Linked DNA regions of Homo sapiens: regions 1 and 2 are each linked to region 3. Evidence: fine-mapped expression QTL. A gene starts in region 3. Each other region holds a variant in brackets. All regions are shown on one strand. Distances are from middle to middle.

Region 1 (2,651 bases), 27 kb after region 3:
GGTGGCTTACGACTGTAATCCCAGCACTTTGGGAGGCTGAGGCAGGTAGATGATGAGGTCAGGAGTTCAAGACTAGCCTGGACAATATGGTGAAACCCCGTCTGTACTAATAATACAAAAAAAAAAAAAAAAAAAGCCAGGCGTGGTGGTGCATGCCTGTAGTCCCAGCTACTCGGGAGGCTGAGGCAGGAGAATTGCGTGAACCCGGGAAGCAGAAGTTGCAGAAAGCCAAGATTGTGCCACTGCACTCTAGCCTGGGCAACAGAGTAAGTCTCCATCTCAAAAAACAAACAAACAAACAAAACTCAATTTATCAGGTGGACCTTTCTCATTTAGCATGTAAAATTCCAAATGGCATCGTGAGTGACTATCCTGAGTATAGATATCCCCATCCCAAAGATGTTCCTATTACATGCAGGAGGGGGAAGCTTCTAAGATATGAGAAAGATCTGCCTGTGTCTCTCACAAGCTACAACTTAGAACTGGCCCTTCAGGGGACAGGGCTTTATTTCCTTTGTGGCTCCTGGCTACACTTAATCCTCCCTAGGCACTGGAAGGGAACCTGCACTATCGTGGCAGTGGTTCCTGACCTGTTATCTTTAAATTCCACTGATATGGCAGCATCATCTGGGGACATCCCTAGCCTAGCGTCTTTTCTAGTGAGTGTGCTATCTCAGATGCGCTGAACAAAGAGGTCTATCATTTCCATGCCCTCATATGGAGACTTAACTGAAAGAGAAGATTGGGTAGGACCTGCACATGACAATCCTATCTCAGAAAAACCATGGATAGGGGATTCTATAGTCAGAGGCCTATTCTGGTTTGCTGGTATTCCTCTCCTTGAAAAATCAGTACTTAATATTTCTATTATGATGCCACAAGGGTAGAAGCTAACAGTAGGAGCCATAGAAGCACAACAACAATTCATAAACTCTTTAGCCTCAGTAGTTATGCAAAATAGACAGGCCCTAGATATCCTTATGGCCAAAGTAGGGGGTACCTGTGCACTTTTAAAAAGAAGCATGTCACTTCTAGATCAATACCTCTAGTCAAGTAGAAGAGAATGTACAGGTGCTTAAAGATCAAATTAGAACATTGACAGATTAAGAGAGAATGCGGGCTCCAGTCCCAGTTGGCTACAATCCCTCTTAAATGGATTCCAGTCTTCTTTGTGGAACTGGTTAGCTCCTTTATTAGGCCCCCTTTTGCTCGTGTGTTTTGTACTAATGTTTGGACTTTGTATATTCAATACTGTAACTCAAATTGTTTCCTCTCACTTAGAGGCTATTAAACTCCAAATGGTGCTGCAGATAGAACCACACATAGACACGCCATTCTTCTGGGGACCCTTAGACCAATCTCAGGAGGAGCCCTAACTGCTGTAACCCCAACGACGCCCCCTTCCAGCAGGAAGCAGCCAGGAGTGGTCATCGTCCACTTTCCCCAACAGCAGTTGGGGTCTCCACTCCTGAAGCAGGGAATGAGAAAGGAGGAAGGAAGAAACCAGTCAGACAGGCAGTTAGGGTGGGTCCT[C/T]GGTAAAATTCTTCCAAACAAAAGAACAGCTTGAAAAATCAAACTGCAGGCACAGAGAAGAGAACTTGTACAGGGAGGCTTGCCTTAGACATGTCCACAGCTGCCTAGGTAAGAAAGACTACACAGGAGACTTGCCCAGAGATGCCCACAATGGAAAATTCCATTCCCTGAGACATGCGCAGTAAGGGGAACAAAGCCATATGGAGTAACTCAAGCTAAGGGCCTGCATGCACACTGGGAGGATAGGGTAGAACTACCAGAAATTCATGCTTTATGCAAATGAGATGCCCAGCACTCATCAATTTCTTACAAAAGCCTCTGTATTCAACTGTGAAATGGCGACACTCTTTTGGGCCCCCTCTTGGCAGTGGGGAGCTTTCTTTTTTCACTTTTTAAATTTTTGCTCCAACCTCACCTTTGGGGTCCATGCTCCTTAATTTTCTTGGTTATGAGACAAAGAACTTCAGGTGATACCTTGGGCAATGAGAGACTGCTACATTGTGGTGCATTGGTGAGACTGTAAAACTATCAGTTTATTGCTGATAACCCCAACATCAGCAATGATGCTTATGGAAAAAGAAAACAAACCCTTTATGATCAGCTGGATCCTTTAGTTGTTTGCAAAGATGACTCCAATCCTACACCCTTCCCTGAATCCATGTCCATTGCTGTGTAACTTTGTAGTGCCTCTAACTGTGTGACCTCTTTCAGCCAACTTAAGAAGACAGCAGTGAAGGCGTGCCAGTTCCAAGTGTAAGCCCCAAGAGGTCTTGTGTGTCTTCATTTGCTTCCTCGTGTGCTTCTAATGGTGCTGGGAGAAGAACAGGTCGAGACTAGCCTGCTGGAGGATGAGAGATGCTGGCTACCACATCCTTGTTGCTCCAGTGGAGGCCAGGCTAGATTAGATGACAGCCACCTGACTCCATGTGAGCAAATCTGAGATCAGCAGAGCTGGCAGAGCCAACTCTCAAATACTTGGAAAATACTTTTAATATGTAAAACATTTTAAATATTACATTAATATTTAAAATGTTTTTTAAAGCCACTGTTTTATACTGGCTTTGTTACACAGCATAAGCTAAGTGCTACAACTCCTCAGGAAGCTGAGCTTTGACCAA
Region 2 (2,651 bases), 32 kb after region 3:
GGCCAGAGGTGCACATTAGTGGGGCTCGGGTGGGTCTCATGGTGACATTGGCTGGAGATGCCAAATCCACAGGCGTTAGGCCTGGGCAGGTTCTAGTGTGCGAGTGGGCTAGTTTTTCTAGACTAGCACACAGGAAGAGGGTGGCCTGGCTTGCCTTCCCTCTGAAGCTCAGGACTGAGGCCCAGGACATGTCTCACACCATTGATATGAGTTGGGGACAGATGGGTGGCAGATGTGCCCAATCAGGCTGCATTGACACCTGACTGGCTGGAAGAAGAGCCTGTAAAGCAAAGAGCCCAGTCTTCCTGTAAGAAGGAAGAAGATGGAGGGCTCATCATGCACGTGGGCCAGAAAAAGTGCCAGTGAGGTTGTTCTGACTCCATAGGTGTTCTGGACATAATCTAGGCTGTCACAAAACAGCCAAGCCTGCTGCCAGTTTCCAATCTGGGATCTCAGGGAGGCCCAGGGGCTTGCTGAGTTCCACCTTCCCTCTTTCCCTTGGTTTGGAGACAACTTTCTCCCTGTGGTGAATGTGACACTTAGAACAAGGTGCAGCCCTACTAAAAGCTGGAGCTTAGGTCACTGGGACTGTGTGCTAGGGGAAAGAGGGGGAGGGAAGAGCAGGGCTGTGGCATTAGACAGACTTTGGCTGAAATCTTGGACCTGCCTCCTACTAGCTGTGAGATCTTAGCAAATTACTTCCTGCTATAGGCTAAATGTCTGTGTCCCCCTAAAATGCACATGTTAAATCCTGATGCCCAAGGTGATGGTATTTGGAAGCGGGGCCTTTGGGAGGTGATGAGGGTGGAATCCTCATGAATGGGATTAGTACCCTTATGTAACAAGGCCCCAGAGAGCTCCCTCACACCTTCCACCATGTAAGATTACAGGGGAAAGACAGGCCCTTCAGCAGACACTGAATCCACTGGCACCTTGATCTTGGACTTCCTAGCCTCCAGACTGTGAGTAATAAATGTCTATTGTTTATAAGCCACCCAGTCTATGGTATTTTGTTATAGAAGCCTGAATGGTCTAAGACACCACCCTTTCTGACCCTGTGTCCTCATCTACAAACTCAAAGAAGAACAGTGCTTCTCTCATAGTCCTGCTGGGCCACAGTGA[T/C]ACATGGTACTTCCCTTCTCCTTTTCAGGGGCCCTGGAGTTGAGACAGCTCTGCACATAGCGTGTGGATGGGCCAGACTGCTTCCTCTGCTGTCACATGATGACTAAGGGATGCAATCCTGGAGGCAGAATATCACAAACAAAATTATCACAGAAGTTCCTGCTGGGCTGAGTAGTGCTCAGGTGAACTTCTTTGTCCAGTTGAGGCCAGTGCCATAGAGAAAGGGTGCCCCCAGATGGAGGTAGCACCATCAGTGGGCAAGAACACCTTCGCGGAGGAGGGAGGCTTGGTCGAACTGCCTCTCTATGCCTGGAGCTTTCCAGCCCCTCCCTGGGTTATGCCTTAAGGCTGGGGGTCTCCCTCAGAGTTGGTGGAAAACCTAGGACCAGTGGTCCTGATTTTTCTCTGCCGAAGTAAGTCTTCTCTGTGGCCAGCAGGTGGCGCTAAGCCCTCAGTTCTGTGGGCTTCACACTCACCAGCAGCTTAAGGTCCCTGAGGGGTGGAGGAAGGTTACTCTGGTTTGGGCTCCAAGGATGGTACTGCCAGCAGGTCCTTAGTGAGTCTGGCCTTTCTCCTTGGCCTTAATGGCAGCCAAGCTGAGTCGCAAGAGCCAGCCTCCTAGGATCCTGGGCTGACTCTGAGTAGCTTTCACCCCTTCACCCTCAAAACCAGAAATGGGTCAGCTCTGCAAGGAAGGGAATCAGCGCTGGGGACTGCATGGGTGCTGGGAGAGGGCAGCTTAGAGCTCAGACCAGCAGCGGCAACTTCCTGGCCCCTTGGCCCTGCCTCTGGAGCCGCCTGAGACAGACCCTCACTGATGCCCTGTCTGCAGGCCTCACACTGTAGCAATAACCCTGGCTTTTTGTCCTGTACGCCATCCATCCGTTATTCATTCATTCATTTGTTCATTCATGTAGCACCTACTCCATGTAAGCCAGCCACAGTGCTGAGTCACAGTCCCTGACCTCAGGAAGCCATGGACTTGTGGATGGGGAGACAGACCCCTAAACGTAGGCAAAAGGAGAATGCCCACAGCACAGCAGAGGGAAGGGACCTTCCTTTTCCAGAGAAATCAGGGAAGGTTTCGAGGAGGCATCACTCAGCCTGGATTTTTATGGATTTCAACAGACAGAGATGAGGCCTGGGCAGTCCAGGCCAAGGGAGTAACATAAGCAAGGTCTGGGAGGTAGGAAGCTCAACATTATGTGTCAGGAGGGATAGGACAGCGAGGTACCTAGGGAAGTGGGTGGGCAAGTGCAGACTCCTGGCAAGAAAACAGTGGGCCATAAGGCCGGAGAGGCAGTCACAGCCTGAAATGGCTGCTAAGAAGCTAGCCTTGACCCAGAGGTGATGGGGAACTACCGAAGGTATTTCATGATGAGGGTGGGGGGTGACCCACCCTTCTAAGACCACCCTGGAGGCTGTGTGGCAGATGGACTACAGTGGGTGAGATGGAGACAAGGGGACCAGGTCACAGGCATTGCCACAGCCCCTAAAATCGTGGTCTCAGCTAGGAGGGGACACCGTGT
Region 3 (2,651 bases):
AAATATAAATAGAGAAACCTGCCGGTTTTACCCTTTAGAGTAAAAAGGGTACAAAAAAATTACCAAAACAGTAAAAATTACCAAAAGAGTAATTTGATAATTTCTACAGGGTGATGTGTATGTGTCACAACTTTGTGAATCACTATTCTGGGCATGTATAAGAAGTCGTCATATACCTCCATTGGGAATGTTATTTAATGATGTCACTAATACCAGACAAGGATGTCTCCTCAGGTAAGGCTCCTTGGAGGAGGCAGAGGTTGAGAAGAGGTGTAATTTAGGTTTTAAAAATTCAATAGCTGGACTTAACCTTGCATATCTCTACCTGTTATAACGGTGGTCCGGAAGGCTGCGATCTGAAGGCCCCTCAGCTAGTTGCTGCCACTGTGGGCACTCTGCGCATCTTTCACTTCTGAGCTCTTTCTGTATGCACTCTGTTCTGCAGATAAGTGAGAATGTGACTATTTGCTTAGTCAGTGACAGTGTCTCTAACCCTGGAAAGGAAGCTTTTACTCTCTCAGTTTTAGAGACATGTGAACAGGCTGGGGATATGAGGTCACTTACCCACTGTCTTATAATCAGCAGATGGCATGGTTGGCATTGGAGTTTAGGTCTGTCTGTGCTTTTCTGTACATTACATCCTTTTTAATGATGCGAAGGAAAAATGCAGTAGGGTCAATGAGACAAATGGAATGCAGGTTGCTGGGGAAAGAATGCAGGTTCTGCGTTATAAATGCACACACATTTACTGTGCCACTTGGGTTCTGAACTTTGCGGTTAAATTGATTTAAAAACTGGTGTAGAGGTGGTAAAACTTAATCACCGAATGAGAATATTTGGGTTTGCTTCAGGAGGTCGCAAGCCACTTCTTGATTAGTAGAAATGGGAAATTAAGGGCCACCTTCAGGCGTTTAACTGAATTGTCCTGGGGATTTAATTTGCCTTTCGACTTAATGCTAAATTTTTGTTGTTTTTGGTTTTTAAAGTAATGTAAGTTTATCGCGCCAACGGTAAGATGTCGCTCTGGACGCGTGCACCTGCTCTCGCAATCACCGACTGCGGTCAGCATCTTCCTTAGAGCAGCGCCCCGGGCCACTTGGATCCCGGTCTCAATTTACTAAGCGAACCCAGAGGATGCCCCGAGTCCTGGACCGCAGAGCCGCTCGCGAGAGGCACCGGGGCTGTAACCGCGCAACCTCGTGCCGCGGGCGGAGGCGAGGGAGGATTCCCCGGCCGGTGCCCGCCCCCGGGCTAAAGTGCGGCGCGGGTGGGGCTGGTCACGCGCCTGGCTTCCTGCAGTGCGAACCTGGGAAATCCAGGCGACTTCGCAGTTGCCGAAGGGATCTGAAGAAGTGGGATGTGCAAAAGCGCCGGCTGGAAATCCCGGCTGTGTCTCCGTCAACTCTTTACGCAACAGAGGTCTCCCCCTGCCCTTGGTTTCTACCGGGCCGCCTGCTCCCACTCGGCGAAAAAAATTACACAACAGCAGCCGCGGCGATGACGTGGAGGGCTGCCGCCTCCACGTGCGCGGCGCTCCTGATTCTGCTGTGGGCGCTGACGACCGAAGGTAGGGGGCGGCTGGGGTGGGCTGGGGCGGGGGCTCCTGGCGCCAGAGGGTCCTCGCGGGTCGGCTCCCTAGCATCCCGCCAGGGGACCTCAACTTCCTGGGGGCTGAGAGCTCTATTTTCTTTTCTATTTCTTCTCCTTTTTTTTTTTTTTTTTTTTTGAGACGGAGTCTCGCTCTGTCTCCCAGGCTGGAGTGAAGTGGCGCGATCTCGGCTCACTGCAAGCTCCGCCTCCCAGGTTCACGCCATTCTCCTGCCTCAGACTCCCGAGTAGCTGGGACCACAGGCGCCCGCCACCATGCCCGGCTAATTTTTTGTACTTTTAGTAGAGACGGGGTTTCACAGTGTTAGCCAAGATGGTCTCCTTGACCTAGTGATCCAGCCGCCTCGGCCTCCCAAAGTGCGGGGATTACAGGCGTGAGCCCCCGCGCCCGGCCTGGGGGCTCTATTTTCAAGCGTCCCTCCTTTGTGAGAAGCGGAGTCCCCGATGCAACAGGTTTACATTGAAGGCCTGCCCTGTGCAGGGTCGACACCTGTGAGAGCGGAAACGGTGCTTCCTTGGATGTCGCGCGTTTGGTGCCTCGGTATTTGGCGCCTCTCTCGCATCATCCGAGGGGCCGGAGGAGAGAAGAAAATCAGGGAATCGGTAAATTGGAAAAATCATTCATCCGCATATCAGTGGGTCCTCCTGGCTTTGCTAAGTTAGGTCTTTACTGAGAGAGGGAGGGGAGTGTTTTGATCTTGTGGTGACCTTCAAACGTTCTCTTGCTTTTTTGGGAACTCGTATGGGCGTGTTCTGCGTTAACTTAAACAGGAGACTAAAAGGCTGAAACGCGTATGTAGAGATATTTAAACTCATTTCTAACTAGAAGAATGGCAATTAAACAACAAGATGCTGCTTGACCCTTACTAGGCTGGCCAAAATACGCTCCTGGGTGCCGGGTGGTGGAGGTGGAATGTAGGAATCCCGGAGGCGCGCTCTGGGCGCCCCGAGTCACTGCAGGTGGAGGAGAGCCGCGTGTGGACCTCACCGTGGAGACCTTGGCGGCAGCTTCACACCACGCCCTTGCTGCTTGCCGAGCAGCG

What was found. PIP is the estimated chance that this variant, and not a neighbour inherited with it, causes the effect.
Region 1: its variant is fine-mapped to the expression of NCR3LG1 in esophagus mucosa (GTEx, PIP above 0.99).
Region 2: its variant is fine-mapped to the expression of NCR3LG1 in monocytes (Quach 2016, PIP 0.95).

Annotation. Positions count from the first base shown.
Region 1 is chr11:17,377,207-17,379,857 of GRCh38, forward strand. It overlaps NCR3LG1 (natural killer cell cytotoxicity receptor 3 ligand 1), which reads left to right. Exons shown (of 5, transcript NM_001202439.3): 5 at 1-135. Among named protein-coding and RNA genes, the nearest start is that of KCNJ11, 10 kb to the right of the region's middle. RefSeq lists an enhancer at 979-2,178. The variant C/T (reference allele first, on the strand shown) is at 1,534.
Region 2 is chr11:17,382,539-17,385,189 of GRCh38, forward strand. No RefSeq gene overlaps it. Among named protein-coding and RNA genes, the nearest start is that of KCNJ11, 4.8 kb to the right of the region's middle. The variant T/C (reference allele first, on the strand shown) is at 1,123.
Region 3 is chr11:17,350,473-17,353,123 of GRCh38, forward strand. It overlaps NCR3LG1 (natural killer cell cytotoxicity receptor 3 ligand 1), which reads left to right and starts at 1,328. Exons shown (of 5, transcript NM_001202439.3): 1 at 1,328-1,567. The coding sequence starts at 1,498. LOC105376576 (a long non-coding RNA gene) reads right to left here and starts at 1,394. Exons shown (of 3, transcript XR_931094.3): 1 at 1,307-1,394; 2 at 565-702; 3 at 341-439. RefSeq lists a silencer at 1,150-1,269 and enhancers at 1,266-1,867, 1,868-2,469.